Regions from separate parts of the Homo sapiens genome. Here region 1 is linked to region 2. Evidence: fine-mapped expression QTL. A gene starts in region 2. The other region holds a variant in brackets. All regions are shown on one strand. Distances are from middle to middle.

What was found.
Region 1: its variant is fine-mapped to the expression of ZBED5-AS1 in prefrontal cortex (BrainSeq, PIP 0.95).

Annotation. Positions count from the first base shown.
Region 1 is chr11:10,870,360-10,886,053 of GRCh38, forward strand. It overlaps ZBED5-AS1 (ZBED5 antisense RNA 1), which reads left to right. Exons shown (of 3, transcript NR_034137.1): 3 at 8,022-8,917. It overlaps LOC124902629 (a long non-coding RNA gene), which reads right to left. Exons shown (of 2, transcript XR_007062588.1): 2 at 13,800-14,765. Among named protein-coding and RNA genes, the nearest start is that of ZBED5-AS1, 20 kb to the left of the region's middle. The variant CT/C (reference allele first, on the strand shown) is at 8,133.
Region 2 is chr11:10,850,628-10,866,321 of GRCh38, forward strand. ZBED5-AS1 (ZBED5 antisense RNA 1) reads left to right here and starts at 7,590. Exons shown (of 3, transcript NR_034137.1): 1 at 7,590-7,739; 2 at 14,634-14,700. It overlaps ZBED5 (zinc finger BED-type containing 5), which reads right to left and starts at 7,426. Exons shown (of 3, transcript NM_001143667.2): 1 at 7,235-7,426; 2 at 5,517-5,630; 3 at 2,079-4,459. The coding sequence starts at 4,318. The coding sequence ends at 2,237. RefSeq lists enhancers at 7,092-7,471, 7,625-8,262, 7,772-7,861, 8,263-8,898.

The DNA.
Region 1 (15,694 bases), 20 kb after region 2:
TTTACCATGTTGCCCAGGATGGTCTCTATCTCTTGACCTTGTGATCCACCTGCCTCAGCCTCTCAAAGTGCTGGGATTATAGGCATGAGCCACCGCGCCCAGCCCAGGATTTTTTTTTTCTATTTCTGTAAAGAATGTAATTGGTATTTTTGTAGGGCTTGCATTGAATCTGTAAATTGCTTTGAGTAGTATGGCCATTTTAACAATATTAATCCTTCCAATTCATAAGGATGAGATGTCTTTCCATTTTTTTGTGTCCTTTTCAATTTCTTTCATTGGTGATTTATAGATTCCCTTGTAGAGGTCTTTCACTTCCTTGGCTAAATTTATGCCTAGGCATTTTGTTTGTAGCTATTGTAAATGGGATTATTTTATTGATTTGTTTTTCAGCTAGTTTGTTATTGGTATATAAAAATGCTACTGATGTTTGTATGTTGATTTTGTATTCTGCAACTTTACTGATTTCATTTATTGGTCCTAAAAGTTTTTTGGTGGCATCTTTAGGTTTTTCTATATATAAGATCATGTTGTCTACAAAGAAGGACAATTTGACTTCCTCTTTTACTTTTTTTTTTTTTTTTCCTGAGAGAGAGTTTCACTCTTGTTGCCCAGCCTGGAGTGCAATGGCGCGATCTCTGCTCACTGCAACCTCTGCCTCCCAGGTTCAAGTGATTCTACTGCCTCAGCCTCCTGAGTAGCTGGGATTACAGGCACATGCCACCACACCTGGCTAATTTTTGTATTTTTAGTAGAGACGGGGTTTTGCCATGTTGGCCAGGCTGGTCTCGAACTCCTGACTTCGGCTGATCTGCCCACCTTGGCCTCCCAAAGTGTTGGGATTATAGGTGTGAGCCATGGTCCTGGCCACACTTCCTCTTTTTCAATTTGGATGCCTTTTATTTCTCTCTTTTGCATGATTGCTTGGGTAGGACTTCCGGTACTATGTTGAATAAGTGTGGTGAAAGTGAGAATTTTTGTCTTCTAGTTCCTAGAGGAAAGGCTTTCAGCTTTTCTCATTGAGTAGATTAGCTGTGGGTTTGTCATATATGGCCTTTAGTATGTTTTGGTATGTTCCTCCTGTGCCTAATTTGTTGAGAGTTTTTATTGTGAGGGGATCAAATACTTATCTACATCTGTTGAGATAATCATATAGTTTTTTTGATGTAATGCAACTGTTAATGTAATATATTAATTCAACTGGTACCATAACAATCAATGAGTGGTAGGAAACTCCCTATTCCATTTTATTTGTTCACTTTCATCAACATTTCTTTTTTTAATTGGGCATCCAATTTAGTAATGCCTTTTGCCAGATAATGGAGATAACATTATTCTTTATCTGAGGTGGGAAGATTGCTTGAGTCCACGAGTTTGAGACCAGCCTGGATGTCTTAGCAAAACCTCATCTCTACAAAAAATACAAAAATTAGCCAGGCATGGTGGTGTGTGCCTGTAGTCCCAGCTACCCAGGTGGCTGAGGCGGGAGGATTGCTTGAGCCTGGGAGGCAGAGGTTGCAGTGAGCCGAGAACAGGCTGCTGCACTCCAGCCTGGGCAACAGAGTGAGATTGTCTAAAAACAAACAAACAAACAAACAAACAAAAAACAAAAGTTATTATTGATATGTGAGAACTTATTTCTGTCATTTTGTTGTTTTCTGCTTGTCTGTATATCCTTGGTCCCTTTCTTCCTCTTTTACTGTTTACCATTGAGGTTTAGTGGATTTCTGTAGCAGTAATGTTTGACTTCTTTCTCTTTCTTATTTATATATCTACTGTACCAGTTTTACATTTGCATGGGTTTGCTTGTTGGCAAATATTGTCCTTTTGCTTTCAGATATAGGACTGACTTAAGCCTGTCTTGTAGGACCAGTCTAGTGGTGATGAATTCCCTCAGTTTTTGCTTGTCTGGCATTTTATTTCTCTTCATTTTCGAAGGATATCTTTGCTAGGTTTAGTATTTTTGGCTGGTAGTGTTTTTCTCTCAGCACTTTAAACATACCATTGTATTCTCTTCTGGCCTGTAAAGTTTCTGCTGAGAAATCTGCTGTTTGTCTGATGGGGATTCCCGTATACATGACTTGATGCTTTTATCTTGCTCTTTTTAGAATTCTCTTTGTCTTTGACTTTTGATAGTTTGACTATAATATGTCTTGAAGAAGACCTTTTTGGGTTGAATCTATTTGAGGATCTCTGAGCTGTATCTGGGATGTCTAAATCTCTTGCCAGACTTGGGAAGTTGTCAGCTATTATTTTGTTAAATAGATTTCCTATGCCTTTGCTCGTTTCTCTTCCTTCTGAAACTCCCAGAATTTGAACATTTGGTCACTTTGTGGTGTTCTATATGTTATGTAGGCTTTCTTCATTTTTTTTTTCCGAGTTGTCTTCAAGTTCAGAAATTCCCTCCCCTTCCCCTTCCCCTTACCCCTCCCCTTCCTCTTTCTTTCGTTCTTTCTTTCTTTCTCTCTCTTTCTCTCTTTCCTTCCTTCCTTCCTTTCTTTTTTTCTGAGATGGAGTCTTACTTTATCACCCAGGCTAGAGTGCAGTGGTGCAATCTCAGCTCACTGCAACCCCCGCCTCCTGGGTTCAAGTGATTCTCCTGCCTCAGCCTCCTGAGTAGCTGGGACTACAGGTGTGTGCCACCACGCCCAGCTAATTTTTGTATTTTTAGTAGAGACATGGTTTCACCATGTTGGCCCAGCTGGTCTCGAATTCCTTACCTCAAGTGATCTGCTCACCTCGGTCTCCCAAAGTGTTAGGACTACAGGCATGAGCCAATGTGCCCAGCCAGAAATTATTTCTTACGCCTAATCTAGTCTATTGTTGAAGTTGTCTATAGTATTTTTTATTTTATTCATCAAATTCTTCAGTTCCAGGATTTCTGTTTGTTTTTTCTTTTTTCTTTTTTTTTGAGACGGAGTCTCGCTCTGTCGCCCAGGCTGGAGTGCAGTGGCGCGATCTCGGCTCACTGCAAGCTCCGTCTCCCGGGTTCATGCCATTCTCCTGCCTCAGCCTCCTGAGTAGCTGGGACTACAGGCGCCCGCCACCACACCTGGCTAATTTTTTTGTATTTTTTAGTAGAGACGGGGTTTCACCATGTTAGCCAGGGTGGTCTTGATCTCCTGACCTCGTGATCCGTCCGCCTCGGCCTGCCAAAGTGCTGGGATTACTTTGGCGTGAGCCACCGCACCCGGCCACCTGTTTGTTTTTTATTAAATGATATCTATTGCATTGTTGAATTTTTCATTCAGATCATAAATTGTTTCTTTGATTTCTATTTTTTACCTGTGTTCTTTTGTAACTCACTGAGTTTCTCTGTTCTTTTCAAGCATTTCATAAATTTCCTTTTCTTTCAGATCTGTTATCAGAGAATTATTGTGTTCCTTTGGAGGTGTCATGTTTTGTGTTTGTGTGTGTGGTTTGAGACAGGGTCTATCTTTATCACCCAGGCTAGAGTGCATAGTTCGCTGCAGCCTCAAAGTCTTGGGCTCAAGGGATCCATCTGCCTCAGTCCCCCAAGTAGCTAGGACTATGGGCATACACTACCAGGCCTGGCTACGTTTTTATTTTTCATAGTGATAGGGTCTTGCTATGTTGCCCAGGCTGGTCTCCAACTCCTGGCCGTAAGCAATTCCCCTTGTTGCCTTATTAAGCACTTACTTATCTGTCAGGCACTTTATTTTATTTTATTATTAATTTTTGAGATGAAGTCTCGCTCCGTCGCCTAGTTTGGAGTATAGTGGCATGATCTTGGCTCACTGTAACCCTGCCTTCTGGGTTCAAGCAATTCTCATGCCTCAGTCTCCCGAGTAGCTGGGATTACAGGCATGCATCACCATGCTCGGCTAATTTTTTGTGTTTTTAGTAGAGACAGTGTTTCACCATGTTGATCTTGAACTCCTGACCTCAGGTGATCTGCCCCCCTCAGACTCCCAAAGTGCTGGGATTACAGGTGTGAGCCACCACACCCAGCCTCCAGTGCCTTTAAGTAATTTTAATTTTTTTTCCAGATTTTATTATTGTTATCTAAATGAGGGTTAGTATAACCAAGGTACTCTGCCAGTATGGGCAGATGAAAGTCCCTAGTTACTGAATTTTGTGTGTTGATCTTTTTTTAAAAGTTTTAATTTTAAAACATTTAAATAGTTTTTGGAGTACAGGACAAGTTCTTTAGTGGTGATTTCTGGGATTTGGTGCATCTGCCACCTGAGCAGTGTACATTGTAACAAATATGTAGTCTTTTATCTCCCTCCCACCCTTCCCCCACCCCAAGTCTCAAAATTCTGTTAATTCATTCTTATGCCTTTGTATCCTCCTAGCTTAGCTCCTCCCCACTTATAAGTGAGAACATGTGATATTTAGTTTTCCATTCCTGAGTTACCTACCTTAGAATAATGGCCTCCAGCTTCATCTGAGTTGCTACAAAAGACATTATTTCATTTTTTTTTTATGGTTGAGTAGTATTCCATGGTGTATATATACACCATATTTCTTTATCCACTGGTTGGTTGATGGGTACTTAGGTTGGTTCCACATTTTTGCAGTTGCGAGTTGTGCTGCTATAAATGTGTGTACATGTGTCTTTTTCATATAATGACTTGTTTTCCTTTGGGTAGATACCCAGTAGTGGGATTGCTGGATTGAATGGTAGTTCTATTTTTAGTTCTTTAAGGAATCTCCATACTGTTTTCCTTAATGGTTGTACGAGTTTACATTACCACCAGCAGTGTAAAAGTGTTCCCTTTTGACCATACCCACACCAACATCTATTGATTTTTAACTTTTAAATTATGCCCATTCTTGCAGGATTAAAGTGGTATCTCATTGTGGTTTTAATTTGTGTTTTCCTGATAATTAGTGATGTTGAACATTTTCTCATATGTTTATTGCCTCCTTTTTTTTTTTTTTTGAGACAGGGTTTTGCTCTGTTACTCAAGCTGGAGTGCAGTGGTGTGATCTCAGCTCAGTGCAACCTCTGCTTTCTGGGCTCAAGTGATCCTCTAGCCTCAGCCTCCTGAGTAGTTGGGACTACACGTATGAGCCACCATACCTGGCTAATTTTTGTACAGATAGGTTTTCACCTTGTTGCCCAGGCTGGTCTTGAACTCCTGAGCTCAAAGTGACTCACCTACCTCAGCCTCCAAAAGTGCTGGGATTACAGGCTACCACGCCCAGCCTGTATATCCTCTTTTGAGAATTTTCTATTCGTGTTCCTTGCCCATTTTTCAATAGGCTTATTTTTTTTTCTTTGTTTGAGTTCCTTATAGATTCTGGTTATTAGTCCTTTGTTGGATGCATAGTTTGCAAATATTTTCTCCCACTCTGTGAGTTGTCTGCTTACTATGTTGATTATTTCTTTTGCTATGCAGAAGCTCTTTGTTTAATTAGGTCCCATTTATTTATTCTTGTTTTGTTGCATTTGCTTTTGGGTTCTTAGTCATGAATTCCTTGCCTAAGCCAATGTCTAGAAGGGTTTTTCTGATGTTATCCTCTAGAATTTTTATTCAGATCTTAGATTTAAGTCTTTGATCCATCTTGAATTGATTTTTGTGTAAGCTGAGAGATGAGGATCCAGTTTCATTCTCTATAGGTGGCTTGCCAGTTTCCCCAGCTCCATTTATTGAATAGAGTATCCTTTCCCCAGTTTGTGTTTTTGTATGCTTTGTCAAAGATCAGTTGGCTGTAAGCATTTGGTCTTATTTTTGGATTCTCTGTTCTGTTCCATTGGTCTACATGCCTATTTTTATACCAGTAACATGCTGTTTTGGTAACTGTAGTCTCATAGTATAATTTGAAGTCAGGCAGTGTGATGCCTCCAGATTTGTTCTTTTTGCTTAGTATTGCTTTGCCTGTATGGGCTCTTTTTTGGTGCCATATGAATTTAAGAATTGTTTTTTCTAGTTTTGTGAAGAATGATGATGGCATTTTGGTGGGAATTGCATTGAATCTGTAAATTGCCTTAGGCAGTATGGTCATTTTCACAATATTGATTCTACTCATTCATGAGTATGGCATGTGTTTCCATTTGTTTGTGTTATCTATGACTTCCTTCAGCAATGTTTTATAGTTTTCCTTGTACAGATCTTTCACCTCCTTGGTTAAGTATATTCCTGAGTATTGTATTGTATTTTGCAGCTGTTGTAACAGGGATTGAGTTCTTGATTTGATTCTCAGCTTGGTTGTTGGTGTATAGCAGTGCTACTGATTTGTGTACATTGATTTTGTATCCAAAGAGTGTACTGAATTCGTTTATCAGATCTAGGAGATTTTTGGATGAGTCTTTAGGGTTTTCTAGTTATATGATCATACTGTCAGTGAACAGCAACAGTTTGATTTCCTGTATTTCTATTTGGATGCCCTTTATTTCTTTCTCTTGTCTGATTTCTTTAGCCAGGCCTTCCAGTAGTATGTTGAATAGAAGCAGTGAAAATGGCATCTTTGTCTTGTTCCAGTTCTCGGGGGAATGCTTTCAACTTTTCCCCATTCAGTATTATGTTCAGTGTGAGTTTGTCGTCTATGGCTTTTATTGCTTTGAGTTATGTCCCTTCTATGTTGAGAGTTTTTATCATAAAGTGATACTGGATTTTCTAAAATGCTTTTTCTGCTTTTTTGTTTTTAATTCTGTTTCTGTAGTATATCACATTTACTGACTTGTATACATTAAATCATTCCTGCATCTCTGGTATGAAACCCACTTGATCATGATGTATTATCTTTTGATATGTGATTGGATTTAGTTAGCTAGTTTTTTGTTTTTGTTTTTTAGGATTTTTGCATCTATGTCTATCAGGGATACTGGTCTGTAGTTTTCTTTTGTTAAGTCGTCTCCTGGTTTTGGTATTTGGATGATACTGGCTTCACAGAATGACTTAGGGAGGATTCCCTTTTTCTCCACTTTTGGAATAGTTTCAGTAGGATTGGTACCAATTCTTCTTTGAATGTCTGATAGAATTCAATTGTGAATCCATCTGGTCCTGGACTTATTTTTGTTGCAATTTTTAAAAATTACTGATTCATTGTTACTGCTTGTTATTGGTCTGTTCCAGGTTTCTATTTCTTCCTGATTGAATCTAGGAGGGTTGTATATTTCCACAAATTTGTGTGTTGATCTTGTATTTGCCCATTCTTTACTAAATATCTTATTAGTTCTAAAATTTCAGCTGTAAATAATATTTCCCTTTCTCATGTTGGTACCTCTTAATTACTTTTCTTATCAAATCTCATTGTCTACAACTTATAGTCTAAACTTGGAGATGACACAGCAGGTATCCTTGTCTTGTTCCTGACTTTAGTAAGAATACTTCCAGTGTTTCATCATGAAAGCATGATATTTTAGGTAGGCTTCTAATAATTCTTCGTTAAGGAGTTTCTCTTTTTAAATTTAGAAATAAGTATTTAATCTTTACAATGCTGTTTTTAGCATTTACCAAGATGAACACATGATTTTCTCCTTCAATCTGAGTTTATGTAATTAATTACATTATACATTTCCCAATGTTGAGGCATCCTGACGTTCTTAGAATAAATCCTACTGGGTCATGATGAATTGATTTTTAAAAATATTATAATGTTAGATTTAATTAGGTAATACATATTTATAATTTTAAAATTCATATTTGTAATTGAGACTTGCCAGAGATTTCTTCTTTTGTTTTCATGGTCTATTGTCCTCCAGCTTTGACATCAGGTTTATGCTAATCTTTAACAGACACTTAGCCTGCCAACTTGATGTAATCCACAGTAATGTCTCCCTGTAAGATTTCTGAAGAGATTGGTGTGAGGTAGATATTATTATCATCATTTTTTTTCAGATGTGGTAACTGAGGCACATTGAGAATTATAGTGTCTAACGTTTATGATATAAGTCAGTGACTAGCAAACTACTTCTTATTTATGAAAATACTACAATTATTCTTTTAATTTCTGGGGTTGAGAGGAGGGCAAAGAATTATTACTCCTGTGATCCTCTCCAGCTACTCAAACTAATATTGTTGTTTATTTCTGTTTCTCTCTGTTTTTACTAGGCTAGGAATTATCTGTGAATGTAGGACCACTGGATTTGCAGTCTTCATCTGACACTGTGGAGAGTTTCTAGGAATGAAACAGATATATGGCCTTGGGTCCCCTTTTTTTTT[CT/C]TTTTTTTTTTTTTAATAGAGACGAGCATCTCACTATGTTGCCTAGGGTAGTCTTGAACTCCTGGCCTCAAGCAATCCCCACCCGACTCCGCCTCTCGAAGTGATGGGATTACAGGCATAAACCACCACGCCTGGCCAGAAGGTGCTTTAACACCAAATCTGAAAATTGTTCAGAAGAGAAACATTGAGCATGAACACCATCTGTGCGAGTCATTTACTTATTGCCCCTCACCTCTAAATCTACCTTCTGTACTCTTCTTCCCTGTAATGATGGGGCTAGTTGTCCTCAAACTGTTTCTCAGACTTCTTTTTAAGCTTGCTTCCTGTTCAGTTCTGCCAATAGGGGTCACTAGAGAGAGACTGGGAGGCAGAAGGAGAGAATATGCTTCCTGTTTTTTCTGTTCTTGTTAATGTTGCTTACAGGACCAGCAATGCTTCTTCACCTAGAGACACTTCTCCCAGCAGTGGCAGTGCCACTTCAGCTTCTTTCAGCACTACTGGAATCAGCCTCAGTGATTCCCCCTGTACCCGCTCAGAGATTATCCACAGCAGCCAGATGGTTCTACCTTCCACAAAGATTGTGGTTGCAATTCTGGGCTTCTAAGTTCTGGTTACTTCATATTTTTCCTTTTGTTCCTCCAGCCCTAGAGGTGGTAGCTGCTTTCTGAAGTTATTATTTCTAGATGACTTTTGGTTTTTCAGCCTTTGTATTTTGCTTTTCAGCCCTCTAATGCCTGTATAACCAATTTCCCTGTAATAAATAAATTTCCTCCATTGAAATACCTAGTATGGCTTTTTTTTTGTTTGTTTTTCTGACTGGACTGACATAAAGAGGACTGCTCATTATATGCCAGCTCAGAACCACTTAATTATGAAAATAGTATATTCATTGTCTCCACTCCTCCAAAAATTCTGAGATTAATTTGTAGATGTCGCCGGCCTTGAATGAAATGCTTAGTTCCTTGCCAATGGAAAACAAGATTCTGGTAATCTATAACATAAGTAGGATCATGATTAATTAAAGTATCATCTATGGTTTCTTGGGAAAAAATACCTATTGAAGTAGTTGCCTTCAGGGATCAAGTGGCTGCTGCATTTTACCATTGTGGTAGTACAGATGACAACAAGGACTGTGAGTGGGATGACATCTATGCACTGGAAACCTTACAGGCAGAAAGTGACAAATTGAAGACTTTGAAGTCTAAGTTCAAGTCAAATTGAGACAGAGAACTTCTATAGCAACTTTGAAAAAAGTTTCTGATTTCTTATAGCTATAAGATCAACATTATTAAAAATATAACTAGGTGGGTTGCAGAATTAAAATGGAAATTAAATTTAGAGACTCATCAAGTCATTTATGTGACAATCAGGGCACTGGGAGCAAGCGGGATTCTAAGACTTGCGTTGGACTTGGATGAAGCTAAATGCCCAGGTCCCTCTGAATAAGCAGAAGCAGTCCCTCTTATAACAGAGAAGATTGCCAGGCGCGGTGGCTCACGCCTGTCATCTAGCACTTTGGGAGGCCGGGGAGGGCGGATCACCTGAGGTCGGGAGTTCAAGACCAGCCTGACCAACACGGAGAAACCTTGTCTCTACTAAAAAAATACAAAATTAACCAGACGTGGTGGTGCATGCCTGCAATCCCAGCTACTCAGGAGGCTGACGCAGGAGAATTGCTTGAACCCGGGAGGCTGAGGTTGCGGTGAGCCGAGATCACGCCATTGTACTCCAGGCTGGGCAACAAGAGCGAAACTCCGTCTCGGGAAAAAAAAAAAAAAAAAAAAAGGCTGGGTGTGGTGGCTCACGCCTGTAATCCCAGCACTTTGGGAGGCCGAGGCGGGTTGCGGTGAGCCGAGATTGCGCCATTGCACTCCAGCCTGGGCAACAAGAGCGAAACTCCGTCTCAAAAAACAAAAACAAAAACAACAGAGAAGATTGACCTTTCCTTCTTGAAAACTCTATAATCAATTCATCTGAAGCAGCTGCCTTACAAGGGATACTTATTATCCTCAAGACCCATCCCCATTGCTGATTATTTTTTAGTCTAGACCTAAACTTGAGTTAGATCTCAGCATACTCAAACAGAATGGAGATTCAGACCTGGGGATAAATTGCCTATACCTAAAAAAAAAAAAAAAAAAAAAAAAAAAAGCAGGATTTTGATAATTCATATAGAAAAAACCAAGAAAATATGTGTGAGAATAGTATACAAGGGTGTTAGGCTAAAAGGAACAGAATATAATTTTGTCTCAGGATTAACATATTGATATAAGAACATTTACCAGATAGTCTAGATTTAATGTTTTAGATAAAGCTAGAAATGGCTCTAATAGCTTTCTGGAATGACTAAATTTTTGCCTCATTGATGGCCTACATTCGATGAAGTTTGGTGCCATAACTTCTCTTGCATAATATTTGAAAGGACTCCAAAAGCTAAAGAGATAGGAATGTTGGAATAGATTTTCATATGAGACCAGTGTACCCATTTCTCTCTCCTACATCTTTCAAGAAGTCTCAGAGGAGATTTCCTTCCCTAAAGCAAAAAGAAAAACATTAGTGAGGAAGATACGAGGATCCTTGACAAGCTCTGTGGTGTGTGTTCTTTATAGCCCAGGAATGATCATGGAAGATACTGGCATTGAAATGGACATAATACCACCGTTTATTCACCTTAATAATATTTCTCTGCCCGCTTTTCTTTCATAAACACACGTGAAGTCCTATTCTTCTGGAGCAAGAGGAATTGCTAGAGGAAGTGAAAAGTGTTTGCATTTCAGATCTCTCTTATTTTTGCCATTGACTGCTGAAAAATTTTGTCTAGCTACTCTAGGGAGAGGTGGGAATTTCAAAGATTGCTGAAGATAATAGCAGACCTGGCCCAAGTGTTCTCAAATCCTAACTCTTAGTTACTAAAATGAAGATGAAAAATGAGGGCAGTTATACAAGAAACTAAGATAATGTGTTATCAGTTAGGACTGCCATTTTTCCAATTCTCCTAGGACCTGTAACTCTACCAATGACACCCTTTTAAAAATTTCAAATTAAGTCACCAGAATTGAGATAGAGAAAGTAATTTTATCACTCTTCAAAGAAACTACATTGGATTTTTCTGGAGAGCCAAGCCATTTCACTGATAATTTTAGTAGAATGATTTGCATGTTCTCAGAATTTTATTGAAACATTATTGATTTACTGAAGGGCCTTATCACTGACATAGTAATAATTTGTTTCCTTCACTGAAAATAAGAAGTCACTTTTAAAAGGAAAAGAAAATTTGTGATAGTCTGAAGGAGAATGTATCTTGTAGCAGATTCATATATATCTAAATTTAAAAAATTCAATACCAACTTGTCCATAAATGCACCAAACCTTGGTTAATACATAGAACTCTTGGTGATTAAATGCTTAACCATCATCATCTGTAAGAATCCAAATGCTTGTCCTGAGGCTTTGCCTGTGCCTTAAAATCCTACATATTAGTACTTTACCATCTTTACAGCTCAGGTCTTGTAAATCCTAGGGCGCTAGGGGAAGAAAGTACCTGCCAGGGTATACAAACTCATGGTATGTTTGCCTAAGGGTAGGGAGCCATAAAACTGGCAGCAGGCGATTTTCTTTTCTTTTTATTATAGGTCATGCATTTGATCTCCCTACTTTTCTCAAATTTGTATGGGGCCGGGCCAGCAGCTCTGCATTTGAGTGGGTTGTATGGGAATGCTTTCATTTTCTCTGCTAAACCTGCTCTCAAATTATCACTTTCTAGCATCTACTGATGGATCTTAGGGATGTTCATGTTTCCTAAGAAATTTAGCCCCATAAAAGGTATGAAGAGATTTACCCAAGTAGCAGATAAAGTTAAGGGATGTCACTTCCATGATGTGCAACTCTCCCACTAGGGTTGCAGCTGGGACACTATCAATATTCACTTTTCCACCCCTCCCATCTCCTTTTTACCCCTAGCCATGGCAAACATGGAATAAATACAGCACCGATTCTCCACATTTTTTATCTCAAGACCACTTTGCACGCTTAAAAATTGAAGATTCAAAGGGCTTTTGTTTGTGAGTTGCTGTATTAGAAATTGAAATGAGAGAAATTTTTAAGAATTGATACATCCTAAAACACAATAATAAACCTACTACATGTAAATATAAATAACATATTTTATGAAAAAGTACTGTTTTTCAACACAAGAAAATTAAAGAGTAGCACTGTTTTACATTTTTACAAATTTCCCTAATGACTGCTTAACAGAAAACAGTTGGATTCTCAGATCTGCTTCTGCAATGGGTCTATTGCAATATATGGCTTTGGTTGAAGTATATGAATAAAATCCAGCATTACACAGATATGTACTTGAAAAAAGGAGGAGTATTATAATAACTTTTTCAGATAAGTGGGGATAATCTTCTTTGATACTACACCAAAACTGGACAAGTCCTAGCTAGTTTCTTAAAGGATGGTTCCAATGTGGAATCTGAAACCACAGCAGTGAAAGTTATGTAGTCTATTATGTTAAAATCTAGTGCCCTATTTTGTACCTTGAAAATTTCTATTACCCATGCATGATTTTGTACCATGATGCACTGGCCATTTGGAAAATATTGGTTCATTGAATTATGCATATCTTTCAAATGTTGACACATTTCTTTGTACAGCATCAAAAACCACATTCATTAATATTACCACTGATTTCATTAAAAAAAGTCATAGTATTGTGATGATGTCAAGCTTATAGTGGCATATACAAGTTTCCCAAAATTCCAATTTTTGCTTGAAAGCTAGAATGTTATCATTGGATACAAATACTGCCAGTTGTTTTTCTTGCAGACTCACTTCATTCATTTTTGAGAAAATGTCTGACAGATAACCAAGTCTGAATTACTGTAGTTTGATGTCTTGTTCTTTCAAGAAAAAAATGGTGTTCCGTAAAAAAAGCAGCTAATTCAGCTTGCAGCTCAAACAATTAATTGTACAAGTGCTTTTTCTTGAGATAATCATTAGATTTTGGTATTCAATAGAAGTGCCTTATACATCCCATTTGGTCACACAGAATGTTAAAAGACCCAAAGGTTGAGATTTTGATGACATTAATAATTTTTACTGCTTCACCAGGGCATTCTTATGTGAAACAGTTTTTTTCCCCCTCCTGTGAGTACCTGGCGATAAAGAATATAATGACTATTAGTATCAGTTAAGTGTCTGCTTTGGTTTAAATGTTATTGTTTCCTCTAAAATTCATGTGTTGAAAACTTAATCCCTATGGCAACAGTATTGGGAGGTGTATGGATTAATGATGTTATAAAAGGGCTCACAGGAATGAGAGTGGCCTTCTCTCATTTCTGCTCTTCTGCCATGTGGGGACCTGGCCTTCCTCCCCTTCAAAGGACACAGCATTCACGTGCCATTTTGGAAGCAGAGAAACTGGGCCTTCACCTGCCAATGCCTTGATCAACTTTCAGAATTGTGAGATAATTAATTTCTGTTCCTTATAAATCATGTAGTCTCAGTTATTCTGTTATATTAGGTTGGTGCAATTACTTTTGCACCACAATTTTTTTTTGCATTATCTGCTGGGGGAACCAGCCCCCCAGTATTTCAACGTAGATTCTATTTTCCCTAAGTGTCGGCCGGTCTGAGAAATAAAGAGAAGGAGTACAAAGAGAGAAGTTTTACAGCTGGGCCTCTGGGGGTGCCATCACATATTGGTAGGACCGTGATGGCGACCCTGAGCTGCAAAACCAGCAAGTTTTTATTAGGATTTTAGAAGGAGAGTAGATGTACGAACAGGGAGTAGGTCACAAGGATCACATGCTTCAAAGGGCAATAAAAGATCACAAGGCAAGGGCAAAATTAGAATTACTGATGAGGGTCCATGTCCTCCTGTGCATGCATTGTCTTGATAAACATCTTAACAGGAAAGAGAGTTTGAGAGCAGACAACCGGTCTGACTAGAATTCACCAGGCTGGAATTTCCCAATCCTAGCAAGCCTGAGGGCACTGCGGGAGACCAGGGTGTATTTCAGTCCTTATCTCAACCACATAAGACAGACAATCCCAGAGCAGGCGTTCATAGACCTCCCCCCAGGAATGCATTCCTTCCCCAGGGCTATCAATTATTAATATTCCTTGCTGGGAAAAGAATTCAGCAATATTTCTCCTACTCACACATCCATCTATAGGCTTTCTGCGAGAAGAAAAATATGGCTGTGTTCTGCCCAACCCCGCAGGCAGTCAGGCCTTATGATTATCTCTTTTGTTCCCTGAAAATCACTGTTATTCTGTCCTTTTTCAGGGTGCACTGGTTTCATATTGTTCAAACACACGTTTTACAATCTGTACAGTTAATGCAATCATCACAGGGTCCTGAGGTGACATACATCCTCAGCTTACAAAGATGACGGGATTAAGAGATTAAAGACAAACATAAGAAATTATAAGAGTATTGATTGGGGAAGTGATAAATATCCATGAAATCTTCACAATTTATGTTCAGAGATTGCAGTAAAGACAGGCGTAAGAAATTATAAAAATATTAATTTTGGGAACTGATAAATGTCCATTAAATCTTCACAATTTTTGTTCTTCTGCCGCGGCTTCAGCTGGTCTCTCCATTCGGGGTGCCTGGCTTCCTGCAACAATTATCAAAACAAATGTCAATACAGTGAAAAAGGCAAATAACAGCTTAGTATTATTTTGAAAATAGTTTTTATCTCACAGGCCTCACACATTTAGAAGTACTGGTCTGTAGGTCTAGCATATGAGACAGTGACACAATTCTAAAATGTAAGTCTTTTAGTGTAATTCTCTTGAGCTTCCCCCAGCCTACTTTTTATGTTGTTGCTGTGCTAAGTCTGATTTTTTTTTTTATATAGGTCTTTTGGGGAAACCTATCTACTTACTTCCCTATTCTCTTCTGCCTGTGTTGAGTGCTCACCCTTGGCACTAACTGTCTTTTTGTCAGTTTGCTCCATTAATCAAATATTTATATTTAGACATATGTTAAAAATATACATCAAGAATTATATTTGTCCTGTCTGCTTCATATCTTCCAGAAATTCAACATTTATTTGGGGGTCATAGAATTCTTCCTGATTTTTTTAGTGTTGGTATTTTTTTTTCTTTTTATATCTTTATTATTTCAATGGCATTTTTGGAAAAAGTGGAAAAACTTTGATTCCATTTGTCATTTTTTTAAATCCAAAAGTATTTCTTCTATTTGGAAATAATGGGAATTTGGACTTTGCACTAGTTTGGATGGATCTTTCTCCCAACTAGTTGACTTGAATAGTGAGGTTTTAGGTACTTTATGACTTGGAGGTGCACTCTTCACCTCACTGTCAACTTTGGTTGTGCTGCTTCCTTCCAGAGTTCACATCAAGGGCAGGGAGGTTATACAAGCCAGAGACGTCATGGTGTATCAGTCTTTCTAGTTGGCTCAATCCCAGAGCAATGCTCTGTTTTTACTCTAAACAATCCCTCACTGAATTTGGCAGCAGGGATTGAGTCTGGTTTTTAAGGTCCTGTTTAAAAACTATCTATCCTTTTCAGCATGTTTTCA
Region 2 (15,694 bases):
ATAGATAAATACAAAGCAACTATTAAAGTGCCTGACAGGCTGGGCGCAGTGGCTCACATCGGTAATCCCAGTGCTTTGGGAGGCCTAGGTGGGCGGATCACCTGAGGTCAGGAGTTCAAGGTCAGCCTGGCCAACATGGTGAAACCCCGTCTCTACTAAAAATACAAAAATTAGGCCAGCTGTGGTGGCTCATGCCTGCAATCTTAGCACTTTGAGAGGCCGAGGCGGGTGGATCACCTGAGATCAAGAGTTCGGGACCAGCCTGGCCAACATGCAGAAACCCCGTCTCTACTAAAAATACAAAAATTAGCTGGGTGTGGTGGCACGTGCCTGTAATTCCAGCTACTCGGGAGGATGAGGCAGGAGAATCGCTGGGGGATGGGGGGCGGGCGGGGGGTGGGGACTGAAGTTGCAGTGAGGTGAGATCACGCCACTTTACTCCAGCACAAACAAAATTAGCTGGGGGTGGTGGTGCACACTTGTAATCCCAGCTACTTCGGAGGCTGAGGCATGAGAATTGGTTGAACTTGGGAGGCAGAGGTTGCAGTGAGCCAAGATCGCGCCACTGTAATCCAGCCTGGGTGACAGAGCAAGACTCTGTCTCAAAAAATAAATAAATAAAATAAAGTTCCTCACAGACAAATAAGTGCTTAATAAGGCAACAAGGAGGAAAAACCTGGGCTAGAAGTATGTAATCTTGTTGCCTTGGATCAGGAAATGTCCCATGGTCTAGTAAACTGTTGAGTCTCCAGAGAATAAAAATCCAGATTAGAAGTGTGAAGTGTAGACTCAACTTTAACTGGAACATAGTTGGATATGGCAGAGAACTAATATATGCTGTACACCTACTCCTGATCATCAACTGTTAGGAGCTTTATATTTATACATTCACATTTAATCTTGATAACAACCCTTCAAAGGAGGCGTAATTGTAATTTTATAGATGAAACAACTGAGGTTCAAGTTCAGATTACCGTACATTACAAAGTAAAGTAGGTACTTGAACCTAGTCATTTTACCACATTCTGCCTTAATGGTGGGGGGTGGTACCTTTACTCCCTAAAATGGAAGTTTCAATAAATGAGATTAAATAATGGTTATCTACAGTAGTTCTTGACTACAGGAGTAACAAATATTTAACACTGAGTTGGTGAACTGTGTTGCATGACGTGATGTAGGAAAAGTAGCCCAGAGACAGGAAATTCAGTCAGGAAATTTTTACAGTATTATAAGAACAAACTGATTTCTGGTCTAAGCATCTCTGACTACAGTAAAGTCTCATTAATTTATACTGCATGTGGAATTTACAATAATCTATATAGGAACTGAGAAAAAAACAAAGTATCTGAAAATACTCTTCACACTTCATCCCCTCTCCCTCAATAGTTCAGCCTGAATCATAAAACTATGACATTCCTCGATGACCTCTGCATAATGGCCACACTGAACTCTAGTTAATAGAGTAAGTGAGCCAAAAAACCCAAAGGGTAGCAGTGTGTACACCTGCTACCATACCAATCAATGAATGTAGGAAATCCCCCATTCCATTTTTTGTTGGTTCACTTTCACCAACATGTTTTTCCTTTACTGAGCATCTAATTTAGTAAAGCCTTTTTCCAGATTATGGAGACACAGATTTGGATAAGACTCAATAAGACTCTCTAAGAGCTTAGTCTGAAAACATTGGGAACCGTGAGACCATCAAGGAGTTCACAGTTGAGACAGACACAAACATTAAATACAAGTGTGAAACAGCATCAAAATAGGAAGATACAGAGAATGAAAGTACCTACAAGTCAAAGTGTTGAAGCAAATAGGAGCCTACCAGAAAGTAAGATGGGGACAGAATCGCTTTTTGAGACCTGAAACGATAAAACAGTGTGATATGTTTAGGGAATGGCAAGAAGTTCCATGGGATTGGAGAGCTGCAGAGTAGACACGGAAAGATTGGTAGGGATTAGATCCTGAAGAGATATGTTAAGGGACTGGGACTTTATCTTGGGGATCATTATTTCCCAGTTATGATCATGGAACTCTTTAAAATTACAATGTAAAGAAATACCAATAATAACACAATATGTTTAAAACGTTTGATTCTTTAGCCTTCTTAAAATCTAAATAGTATAAAAAAATGGAATCATTTTATTTAAATCCCCCAAATACCAGAGATGAAGTAAATCATCTTTTATTTTCATCTTACATTTGGTTATCATGAGACATGCAAACTCCTCCAATTTTAATGAGAACAGTGTTTTTGTGTCTTTTTATCACATATCCGCTTAATATTAGGTGTAATATTGCTAAGTCGGATTCGCATATGAGGTGCAGCATCAAGTCTTTTCCTATATTTTGTTTTTGTTGCAGCGTAATATGAAAACCCCGTTTCACACAGGTGCATTGTAGCAAAAGGAAGAAGTACACGCACTGCACGCCTTGCAATGCTTGGGTATTCCTGAATTAGGCTACTCCAAAAATCATTTAGTGAAAGTTCACTAAAATTTTGCTTCACTTGAGAATCAGATGTTAAATCAATCAGGCTCTCATAGTCCCGTGCTACTAATGAAGCTGGTTTAACAGTAACTGTAAATGGATTTCTAACCCAAGCATTATTGTCATTTGTTACAGGAAAGTATTTTAACAGAGTAGCGCGCAAACCCCTTAGGTGCTGCACAATGGCACTGCAAATATCTTTATCAACTGTAGAATTAATTTCAGTCAAAAAATCACTGAGTGTAGGAAAACAATCAAAGTTTTCTTCTTCTACAGATGAGGCCCAAAATTCCAATTTTCTTAACAATGACGACATTTTATCAAATACTGTAAAAACGGTCACATTTTTTCCTTGCATTGACAAATTAACTTCATTTAATTTAGTAAAAATATCTGCAAGATATGCAAGTCTTAGCAGCCAAGATGAATTTGTTAAACAATCAGATAGTCGAAAAGCAGAATCCATGAAAACCAAAAGTTCACGACGAAGTTCAAAAAGTCTTACAAGAACTTTACCTCGAGAAAGCCACCTCACCTCTGTATTTAGAAGAAGTGCTGTGTGCTGAGCACCCATTTCCTCACATAAAATTTTTAATAGTCTGGATTGATGTGGTCGAGCTTTAATATAATTGATGATTTGTACTGCCTGGTCTAGCACATTTTTTAGAGATGTAGGCATTATTTTAACTGCCAGTGCATGTCTGTATAATAGGCAGTGACTACTGGTGCTTTCGGGAGCCACATATTTTATTAAGGTGACAGCTTCGGCAATTTTCCCATCCACTGCCCTAGAAGCATCACTACAAACATCAACACATTTTTCCCATTCAATTTCATGTTTCTGCATAAAACTGTTGATACAGTTGAATATTTCTTCACCGGTAGCATTACTTTGCAAAGATTCACACAGGAGTAGGTCTTCCTCAATAGACTTATTAAACCTATAACGAACAAACACAAGCAGCACAGCAAGTCCTGAAACATCAGCTGATTCATCTAGTTGCAGTGAAAACCCATCGCAAATTTTCAGTCTACAAACAAGCTCTTCTTCAATGTCAGCAGCTAGATCCTTAATTCGACGTGCAACAGTACTGTTTGATAGCTGTACTGCATCTATTTTTTTACTATATTGTTCATCAAACATCCGCATCACTACATCTTTTGCACAAGGTTTGATAAGCAATTCTCCAATAGTATGAGCCTCTCCACTCAGCGCTATATGGTAACTTACATTGTATGATGCTTCTGTAGCACTTTCATTATCTGTATTCACAATTTTAGGTGTTGGGGGTTTATTATTTTCAGGTGAATCGAGATGTTGCTTGAAAAAGCTTATGTCTTTGTCTTTATATGCAGCATGTTTAGTTTCCAAATGTCTTCGAAGCTTACTAGGGGCTAAAGAGCTATTTGATAAAATTTTCTTACATAATACACACTGAGCATGAGGTGCATCTCTATTTCCGAAGTAAGTAAATCCAAAAGACAAATAACTTTCATCATATTTTCTTCTTTTTGGTTTTTTACTAAATGTTATTTTGTTGGAATTGGATATAAATTTGACCCTGGAAAGCTCACCTTCTGATTTTTTAGAAACTGAAGGTTGCAACTGCTTATCTTCACTTTGTAATATTCCAACCTTCTGATCATTTGATTCAGACACAATCTGATAACAGAAAGATTCCACTTCTTGTTTAAGACTTCCTTGTTTCAGCAACAGATCCATGGGCAATGAGTTTGTGGTACAAAACATGGTTAATTTAGAATAGACATTGAGTATCGCAAATGTGTTGAAATTATAAGACAGGATACAAAGAAGAGGAGCAATCATCAAAGAGATGATATACAGCAACACATCAGTTAATTTGTAAATGCTGCCTATTCATCAATGCGCAGATGGAACATCATACGTTCATGTATCAGGTGATCTCTCATGCGACTTCCTGGTGCTCTCAGGTATGGTACACCTTTTCTTAAAGGTAGATTATCACATAAAAATAAAAGCTATAGAAATGAGTTTAGCAGTCTTAATCTCATATTTAAATAAACATATTAAAATCAACCATAAAGAAAAACCAATATTAGCATCAATCATTTTCTCAAAACATTTATTAACTTAGAGAATATTAATATTCTATAAAACATAATTTGGGAATCACTGAGCCAATAAATTATTAAGAGTTGTTATACATATTTTTAAGAAAGGGACCCTGAAGAATATGTCCCATGGCAGGGGTTGGCAGGCTTTTTTTGGTCAAGGGCCATATAGTCTCTGTTGCAACTACTCAACTCTGTAGTTGTAACATGACAGCAGCCATAGACAATACATGAAAGAATGGACACAGGTGTGTTCCAATAAAACTTTACGTACAAAACCAGACAGCATGGGCCATAATTTATCAGCCCTGTCTCATGGTATGTAGTATTGTGAAATCTCTTTTAGCTTTTGATGCCTACTGTCATTAGATGTATTAGTTGTTGATACTATTATATATCTGAAGTCCCTTCAGGGCTAGCAACAATTCTGAAGAAGTGAATTAAACACACACACAGTTCCAAGTTTTGCGAGATACATAATTCTACTGTATCCTAAATGTTATGCGTTAACAATGAAGAATAAATTGTATATCAAAAGTTAGGTACTGTTTCTCTGGACTTAAATTATATAAACGTTTATATTATCCAAATTAAGACTCAATGAAAGTAATGTATATTTTTACAGATAACTCTGCATTCTATTTATACAACAGGTGACGACTTAACCAGGACCTAAAAAAAAAAAATAAACTCTCATTTAAGAGGTTTATTTCTCATATAATAAAACAAATCAAAATTAAAAGGATAATGCAATCTAAGGATTGCTAAAGAATACTATTAACTCTATAAATCAAGGCATACAAATTATGTCTGTCCAAATATAGCTACTTTTGATTTAAACTTTATAACCTGGCTATAGAGTAAGTTTTGTATTCTCATGTTAGATCTTGAGTCAAAATGGTTCTCCTATTAAGGGGTAGAGGATAAGATACCTGAAATAAGGTGTTCTCCTTTCTGTAATCCCTCTCTCCACCTTGGCAGCTTGAAATGCACTCTTCAAAAGAATAAAATTAAGGGATGGGGTGGGAAGGGGAGTAACCAAAAGCCTAGAATGAGAAAAATTAAAATTAGATACAGTAACAAGCAGAACTAACTATAAACCCGTAAGATGGGTTTATTCTTTCTGGATCTAAGCAGTGAAAATGATTCTTTACTGCAATGCAGATCTTGGACTGAAAGAGAAGACGCCTAGCATAGTAAAAATTCTAACATTTTCATCCTGTTCAATATCTTGGCAATTTAGATGCTTTGAGATGTTCCCCCACCTACTGACTTCATAGAAACATGTTAAAACAACACCACCACCACACTTTCTAGAACTTGAAACTAAGCCTAATTTTTAAAAGTACAACCTCATCAATGTCTCTAAAACTAGGTCTTGAATCTAAAATGGAATTATACATAGAACTATTACATGAAGCAGTTCTTTCACTACAATCATTTTTAGCCCCCCAGTGACCAATCTCCTCAGGTAAACAATGTCTAATGACTGATGATTGTTTACTGTATGCCAATTACTGCTAAATCCCTCATATAGATTATCTCATCTATGAAGACACAAGGATTATTAATAACCCCACTTTAGAGATAAACAGACACAGGTTAACACATCTCGCTAACACCTCTTGTAAGTGAAAAACCAAGTTCAGAGCCCAAAAAGTTTGACTGCATAGCCCATGTGTCTAGCCATTACTTGGGTGTTCCTGAATACTTTTAATTCCCCAACTACTAAAAAATCTCGTTACTAGGAGTTGGGTTATGCAGCGAAACGGATGAACAATGGATTATAACTGCCAGAAAGTCGAGGGTCTCATACTAGCAACAGCATAAAGCCCTGCTTCTTATTGGGAGCAAAAAAGCAGATTCTCCTTCCACAGTCTCCTTTTGGATTTTGCAACGGAGAACTCTGTGGAGCTGCTGGTTCACGTAAAAGATCAGGATCCCTCTCGTTGCCAGAGGACACAGAAGAGTAGGAAGCTTTTGTTTTCAGAAAGAAGGTCCTCAACCCCACCTCTTCGAAGGTGTTTCCCCGAATTTCTCGAGGACAAAGAATCTGGACTCCTTTGAGAGTAAAGTTTCCTTTCCACTCCCTGAAGAGCGGGGAAAACTTCCGTCTTTAGTCTCCTTCCGGTTAAACTGACAAGTATCACAATCCTTTCTCCCCTATCTTCGGGCGGTTCCGGCTGGGAACAATACCCTCAGGGTCAGGAGGACAGGATCTGAGTGCAGGCCAGCCAAAAAGGTGGGAACAGATGCTCCTTCCAACACCTAAATGCTTTTTTAAACGGTCACCTGGATGTGCAGCCAGGGCCAACTATCCCTCAGCTCCTCCCTGTCACAGGTGCGCGCTGCCCACAGATTGCCACGACTGGGGGGCTCCCTACCAGTCGCAGCCCACCCTCGCCTCAGGTCTTCTCTCGCGTCCCCGGGCGGCCGCCTGCGCTAACGACCACATGAAAACGTCTCAGCACCCAACACCATCTCTCTATTTCATCTCCATCAGCGATGGAGAGAACGGATTTTGCCGCGGCTGGGCTGCACAGCAGCGCCGCGGTCCACAGCAGAGCCCGCGACCGCCATCTTAGGCAGTTCCAGGAAGCGGCCATTTCAGAGCGCACCGCTTAGCCGCGGCGGCGGCTCTGCTTCTCACCTTCACCGAGGCCTGAACAGGGTCAACAGCCAGTCGTCGTGGACTGGAGGGGGAGGGGAGAGAGGGAGGGGAATGAAAAACAAAACAGAGAGGAAAGAAGGATTCGGGGACAGGGTGATGCTCTCAGCTCAGGGATATCGCCTAGGCCATCTCCATAGAGATCCGATTCGCGGCTGGCGCGGTCGCCGGTCTGAAGATAAATTTAGCACTCTAGAGCACCCGAACCCTACAATCTTCACGAGCGACTCTGCCGCCGCCCAATCAGCGCCAGATTTGCGTCCCGCCACCAATCCGCGCTGAGCAGCGGGGCGGGACCAAAGGAAAGGACCAAGCTCGGTTGAGGCGCGGCCCAGCCGCAGCCGCAGTCACAGCCTCAGCCGCAGCGGCCGTGCTACCTAGGTGATAGCGGAGCGGCTGGGTAGGAAGCAATTGTTCTCAAACTTCACTAGCCCCGTCGGCGCGGACGCTTGTCGAGAATGCAGATTCCTGGGTACTGCCAGATACGGTTGGTGATCTTGTAGGGCTGGAGTGGAAGCCATGAATCTGCATTTTCATCATTTCTGGCCCTCTGCCCGGGCTGGGGTGATTCACGGGGATTCGTAGTGGCCCCAAAGGAGCACGCAGAACCTCGGCTGCTGTGCATTTATCACCTCTTTTGTTCCCGGAGGCCGCACCCCAGGTCCAGTTTACACAGCTGCCAACTCCTTTTCTTGGTTCCCACTGGAATCTAGGAAGAAAACTCGCCCTTTACTTCTCCGCCCCACACCCGACGACGGAGTGTCTAGAGGTCTGGTCGGCCTTGGCTGTGCGGAGGGCTAGGCCTGACGAGCGGGCGCTGATGCGGCGCAGACCCCGCCGGACCTCTTGGTCGGCCCGGGGTAGGCTGGGGAGCCGCGGGAACAGGACTGGATAGGGAAAGCGGCACCGCAGCGTCCACGGGCAAGCTGAAAGTCCGCTTGATGTCTTTGCATCACAGTGGCGCCCTCCCCGCAGGAACGCCCGGCCGCCTGCACCGAACGTTTGCCTGCAGGGAACGGCCAACCCGCCCTGAAATACTCTTTTTGTGGGCTGCAGCTTTCGGGTATTTTAAGCCATGGTTCTGTGCCCTTCCTTGTTTTCAAAAACACCACAGCCAAAGGCTGCGGGTTGTGTGCTTTCATTTTGTGTTAAGTTCTGTGGTGGAGACCTGGAGTCTGTTTTTCCAAATAGGCACCTTGAAATAGATACGCTTCTTAAGCGGGGAAAGTACGAGTAGGTCCTATTATTTGCAATGTTTTAGCCTTTCCAGACTCCGTACAAATGACTAAATGAAGATTGGATCGTATTTTCAGGCACTGCACCAATGATAGAAAATTCTCAACTTGGGGTCAAAAGCAAGGGCAGCTTTCGTTTTTCTTAAATATGCTTCTGATCAAATATCTAAAGTGTTGAAAGAAACCTAACCCTTAATAGCACAATTTACAGGAGTGCATAATTTCCTAGGACTGACATTTAGTTCCAAATGTTTTAAAGTCAATTACAACATCATCTCACCCTATAGTAAGCTGTCCATATATTCTCATTATTATTTTTAAATTATTTCTATTAAATCAGCTTCATTTGAACTTTAACCATAAATGCATAAATCGTTTTTGGGAAGGGGGTACAGTCGCGCTTGAAGAGCAAGGGATTTTGTCATTGCGGGAGTTGTCTGGCTTCAGAATAATATTGGAATAATATATTTTCGTGTTTCATATTTTAGAAAAACCTTTTACATATGTGCTCCCAAACCAATCTTTTTTTATTTTTTATTTTTTTTATTATTATACTTTAAGTTCTAGGGTGCACAACTTGCAGGTTTGTTACATATGTATACATGTGCCATGTTGGTGTGCTGCACTCGTTAACTCGTCATTTACATTAGGTATATCTCCTAGGGCTATCCCTCCCCCCTCCCCCCACCCCACGACAGGCCCTGGTGTGTGATGTTCCCCACCCTGTGTCCAGGTGTTCTCATTGTTCTATTCCCACCTATGAGTGAGAACATGTGTTTGATTTTCCTGTCCTTGCCATGGGCTCCCAAACCAATCTTTACACATCTTGTTTACATCTTCATGAAGAGGGAAAACCCAAAATATTAAACTGTTAGGCAGAATAGTGTTTAAATAAGTACATCTAAAGTTTAGGAATTAGGTCCTGATATGATTTGACTCTGTGTCCCTACCCAAATCTTATATCGAATTTTAATCCCCACGTATGGAAGGATTAAAGTGATTGGATTATGAGGACGTTTTCTCCCATGCTGTTCTGATAGTTAAGTGAATTCTCACACGATCTGATGGTTTTATAAATGGTAGTTTTTCCTGTGGTCTCACATGCTCTCTCTCACCTGCCGTCATGTAAGACCTGCCCTGTAAGACGTGCCTGCTTCCCCTTCCTCCATGATTGGAAAATTTTGTGAGGCCGCCCAGGCATGTGCAGCTGAGTCAATTAAACCTCTTTCCTTTATAAATTACCCAGTCTCGGTATTTCTTTATAGCAGTGTGAGAATGGATTAATATAGGGCCCCAAATCTGAAGTGTCTCATAATTAAAGTTCATGAAACTTAACTTTTTTTGTAATCGTTTTGTCAAATTATTACAGAATGTTGATGGGACAGATAAGAAAAAATACAGACAATGTAGAACTCAGACCAGTAATACATAGCTAGCATTTATTGAATACATAATGTAGGCCGGGGAGCTATTGTATACGCTTTTTTTGTTTTTGTTTTTGTTTTTTTGAGTCAGGGTCTCACTCTGTTGCCTAGGCTGGAGTGCAGTGGCACGATCTTAGCTCTGTGCAACCTCAACCTCCCGGGCTCAAATGATCTTTCCACCTCAGCCTCCTGAGTAGCTGGGACTACAGGTGCATGCCACCGTGTCTGGCTAATTTTTGTATTTTTTTATAGCGATGGGGTTTTGCCATGTTAGCTAGGCTGATCTCAAACTCCTGGCCTCAAACGAGTCACCCGCATTGGCCTCCCAAAGTGCTGGGATTACGGGTATGAGCCACCAGGCCTGGCCTATACACTTGTAAATTTATTAAGTCTTTTACTGTTCACAACAATTTTATCAGTTGATTAACCTTATTTTACAGATAAGGAAATTAAGCACAAAGAGGTAAATAACTTGCCCCAGTTCCAAGAACTAATTAGTGGCAGAACCTGGATTAGGTGTGATGCTGGTTGTGGGAACTACAAACTGTGTTTATGTGCATACTTGATTTATATTAGGCAGAAAACTATTGTGAATAATATTACAGTAATGTATTAGGTAAGGAGGCTGAGCCTTACCATTAAAAAGGACCCTGATCAGCCACCAAGAAGTCCTTGGCCAGGCATGGTGGCCAATGCCTGTAATCCTAGCACTTTGGGAGGACAGGGCAGGAGGATTGCCTGAGCCCAGGAGTTTGACACCAGGGCACCATAGCAAGACCCCATCTCTATAAAAATAATAAATGCATAAATAATACATAAAATAATAATAACAAGAAAAAGTCCTCCATTGTTCTAATCTCTAAGACCAACTTTTCTCTCCAATTCTTCTGCCATCACTCTGGGCTTACTATCAATTTCCTTAACCAATCTCTTAGCTACCAGACAATCTCTATCAAATTTATCCTACACACAGAAAAGCACTTTATCTAAAATACAGACATTAAAGTCTTTTTTTTTTTTTTTTGAGATGAGGTTTCACTGTTGCTCAGGCTGGAGTGCAGTGATGCCATCATGGCTCACTGCAGCCTCAACCTCCTGGGTTCAGGTGATCCTCCCACCTCAGCCTCCCGAGTGGCTAGGACTACAGGCACGCACCACCACCACCACACCAGGCTAATTTTTGTATTTTTTGTAGAGATGAGGTCTCGTCATGTTGCCCAGGGTAGTCTTGAACTCCTGGGCTCAAGTGATCCTCCTGCCTCAGCCTCCCAAAGTGTTAGGATTACAGGTATGAGCTACTGTACCCAGCCTAAAGTCATTTTTTTACTCAAAGTTATCCCCTTTTTGGCATGATCAACTCTTTAACTGGGCATTTAAGGTTTTCATTAAACTGGTTTTGCTTTTCTTTTTTACTTTTTACAGAGACAGGGTCTTGCTATGCTGCCCAGGCTGCTCTCAAACTCATGGGCTCAGGCAATCTGTCCGCCTCTGCCTCCCAAAGTGCTGGGGTGGCAGGCATGAGCCAGCCACCACACTGACCCAAAACTGTTTTTGCTTTTAAAATTTGTTTTCAATGTTACACAGTGACAGTGCTAGGTGGGAAGTAAGGCAACTATGGACAGGAATGTCTGGAGCTCCCTCTCCTTAGCTAGTGATCTTGTGATGTGTAGTTTACTTGTTCTGGCTTAAAGGCCCAAGTTTGAGGTATTCTTTTTGTTGTTTTGTTTTGATTTTAATTTTTATCCAAGCAATGCAAGCATAGAGTTTAAAAATTCAAGTAGAACTAAAAATATTATAGACAATAACAAAAAAACATTTCTTGGCTCCTTCTTCAGATGCAATCCCTTGTAACATTTTATGCCATTCAGGAGTTCCAGACCAGCCTGGGAAACATAGCAAGACCCTGTCTCAAACAACAACAAAAACAAATCCAGTAACTCTTAGGTTTGTGAAAATTGTCAGAATCAAGATAGAGTCACTAGTGTGGGGGAAAAAAACAAACAAACAAAAAAACCCAGACAAATAGAACCCAGGAAGGCCATTAAGAGGATTCTCATGCACAGATGCCTGCTAACAAAAACTGTCACAAAACACTGCAAAACCACAACCTTGCACAAACGCTGTCAAAATCTTAGACAAAAAATAGTTCTTCAAGGACATCTCCCCAGCAACTCCCTGTGCAGTCTTGGGCTGCTGTCACCCTTGTTACTGATCTTTGTAGCCAAAGATAATTATCTCAAAATAATTATTATAATCCTCCACATTTTTTCCTTTAAAAACCTTTGTCTTCCCTTACCTCCCTGAATGTGCACATAGTTTACTATGGCACACATATTCCCACTGGAATGCTGTATTCCCAAATAAACATCGTTTTCTTCTAGAGAGCCTCCCTCTGTTATTTAGATTGAAAGATTAATACTACTGTTTTTAGTTTCCACTTCCCTGAAGCAGGAAAAAATTTATATTCCTCTACTTGTGTAAGAATTTGCCTATGCAAATGTTAATTGGCTCTATAGTTACTGATTATTCCAGTGATATTTCAGTGCCCCTTTCAGATAAATGATTTGGGCAACGCCCCAACTGCTTACCTTTTAATCCAGATCTGGTTGTGGTTAAAAAAAAGAGCAGGAATATACAAAAATTAACTGGGCATGATGGGGTGCAAGCCTATAATCCCAGCTGCTCCGGAAGCTGAAGCAGGAGAATTGCTTGAACCCAGGAAGTGGAGGTTGCAATGAGCTGAGATCACACTGTTGCACTCCAGCCTGGGTGACAGAGCGAGACTGTCTCAAAAAAAAAAAAAAAAGGCCAGGCGCAGTGGTTCATGCCTGTAATCCCAGCACTATGGGAGGCCGAGGCAGGCAGATCACCTGAGGTCAGGAGTTTGACACCAGCCTGGCCAACATAGTGAAACCCCGTCTCTACTAAAAATACAAAAATTAGCTGGGTGTGGTGGTGCACGCCTGTAGTCCCAGCTACTCAGGAGGCTGAGACAGGTGAATCACTTGAACCCAGGAGGCAGAGGTTGCAGTGAGCTGAGATTGAACCATTGCACTCCAGCCTGGGCAACAGAGTGAGACTCCGTCTCAAAAAAAAGAAAAAGTCAGGATTGGTGTGTACAGCAGGTACAGCAGAAGGTGAAGGAGGGCAGTTCACTCAGAAAAGAACTGTGGCAGATATTGCAACATCTCTAGTGTAATTCTCTTTGATTTATAAAAGGCTAATTACTTTGTTACTTTAAATCATGAAATCATGACACACCTCACAAATAAATGTCATATACTCCTTTTCTAAACCCTGTAGTTGAAACTATTGGTCTAGAAAATAAACTAATTATTGGGCCCCAAATTGAGAGGCTTGAATATTACAAATCAGACACTTTCTCATATTTTCGGGGAGAAGGACAGGTTTACTTGTATTGAGAACCCAAGTTTCAAATAATAATAATTTAATTAAAATAATTTTTTTGAGATGGGGTCTCACTCTGTCGCCCAGGCTGAAGTGCAGTGGCACAATCTTGGCTCACTGCCACCTCCGCCTCCTGGGCTCCAGTGATTCTCCCACCTCAGCCTCCCTGGTAGCTGGGACTACAGGTGCCCACCCCCACTCCCAGCTTTTTTTTTGTATTTTTGGTAAAGATGGGGTTTCACCGTGTTGCCCAGGCTGGGCTCAAACTCCTGAGCTCAAGTGATCTGCTCACCTTGGCCTCCCAAAGTACTGGGATTACAGGTGTGAGCCACTGCACCTGGTCCATTAATAATCATTTGTCTGGAACATACAGAGTACCTTCACAATCTCTCTCTCATTTGAAACTTGAGACAACTTATTTAATTAAGCAGGGAGGTATTCTTATCCCTATTTACAAGGAATGAGGAATCTCAGGTTTAGAGAAGTTGATGGGTTTATGCAAAACTATATGCAACATACAGTTTTTGGAATAGACAGTGCTTGGATCAGTTTTCCTGATTCAGATCAGTGTCTTTTATACTTCCTTTTCTTAAGAAAGTTTTCAGGATTGGGATAATGCAGTTACAAAGTACTTCTGCTAAGTTATTGATCTTGGGCTAAATAATATAGTCAGAACTGTCATTTGGAAAAATAGTATGTTCTTCCAGAGTTGCCCTCTTACAGAAGGTGAAAATTAATCTTACTCCCTTAACTTTCTCGGGAAGGTTGATGTTAAACTTTTAAAAGCCATCCCTTTAAAAAGAATGCTAGATATAGACAATTTTTAAAGCCAAAGTGAAGGTTTACAGGTCATTTAAACACTCAATTACTTGGGGAGAAACTGAAATGCCAGCAGATGGGGTTATTTATAGCACTGTGCTGAGAGCCAGTATATATATTTATTTGTACGAGAGTGGAATCCTGGCTCTGGATCATTTCCTGACTTGTTTGAGACTCTAAGCAAGTCATTTATTATGTCTGTATTTTGGAATTATAGCCTTGCCTCAAAGGTGTGCTCTGTGATTAAATGAACTTCTATTTGTAAATCTTGTTTAAATTTCTCTGATGAAAGGCATATCAGTGTTGATAGCTGTGGAGGATAAGAACGCTGACAATAATAATGAGTACGATAATATCAGTGCCTTGGATTTATGCAGTATCATTACTTCGGGGCTTTGCGTGCCTCCTATGTAGTATGTAGTCTATAACAAAAAACTGTAATTACAAACATTTCACAAGAAATCATTCTTATTGTGATATTTTTATTACTTGCAGAATTGAGCATACCACAAAAAAGTTCTCATTTTGTGTCCTCCCATCCCATTCTCCTCACTAACCAAAGGTAACCACAGTTAATTGTTTTTTATATATCCAGATGTATATGTATATATATTAGTGTATATGACTGATATATTTTATAAATTATTCCACAATTTATAAAATATTTATAATATTTTGGCCTTATCAATATGCCTTGAAGAAATTTTCATGTCAGCATGTAAATCTTTCTTTTTAATAGGTGCATAGTTTCCCAGTTGATTTATTTAATCATTCCCTTATGAAAAGATTCTTGAGTTGTTTCTAATTTTTCAACATTAGAAACAATGCTACAATGAATGTCCTGTATATACATCATCTTTGCACATCTATGTGTGTACTTCTGTAGGTTAGATTTCTAACATGGCTTAAACTTTCAGGCTGAAAGGATATGTATTAAATTGTACCCCAGAAAGCCTTACCAATGTACACTTCCATAAATAGTACACAACAGTATCTTTCTCCTATGGTCAACGTTGCTTTGTATAGTATCAGTCTTTCTAAATTTTGCCATGAAGATTAAAAACTCATTTTAATTTTCTTAACTACTAATGAGGTTGAGCATCTTTTTGTAAGTTTATCAACCATTTACATTTATTCTTCTGTGAACTGCCTGTTCAGAGGCTTTCCCATTTTCCCTGTGGGGTGAGTTTCTGTTTCTGTTTCTCTTTCATTCTTTCTTTCTCTCCCTTTTCTCTCTTTCTTTCTTTCCTTCTTTTTTGTTTCTTTCCTTCTCTCTTTTTCTCTTTCCTTTCCTTTCCTTTCCTTTTCCTTTCCTTTCCTTTCCTTTTCCTTTGCTTTCCTTTCCTTTCCTTTCCTTTCCTTTCCTTTCCTTTCCTTTCCTTTCCTTTCCTTCTCCTTTCTTTCCCTCCCCACTTCCTTCCTTCCTTCCTTCCTTCCTTCCTTCCTTCCTTCCTTCCTTCCTTCCTTCCTTCTTTCTTTCTTGACAGGGTCTCACTCTGTCACCCAGGCTGGAGTGCAGTGGTGCAGTCATGACTAACTACAACCTCAATCTCCTG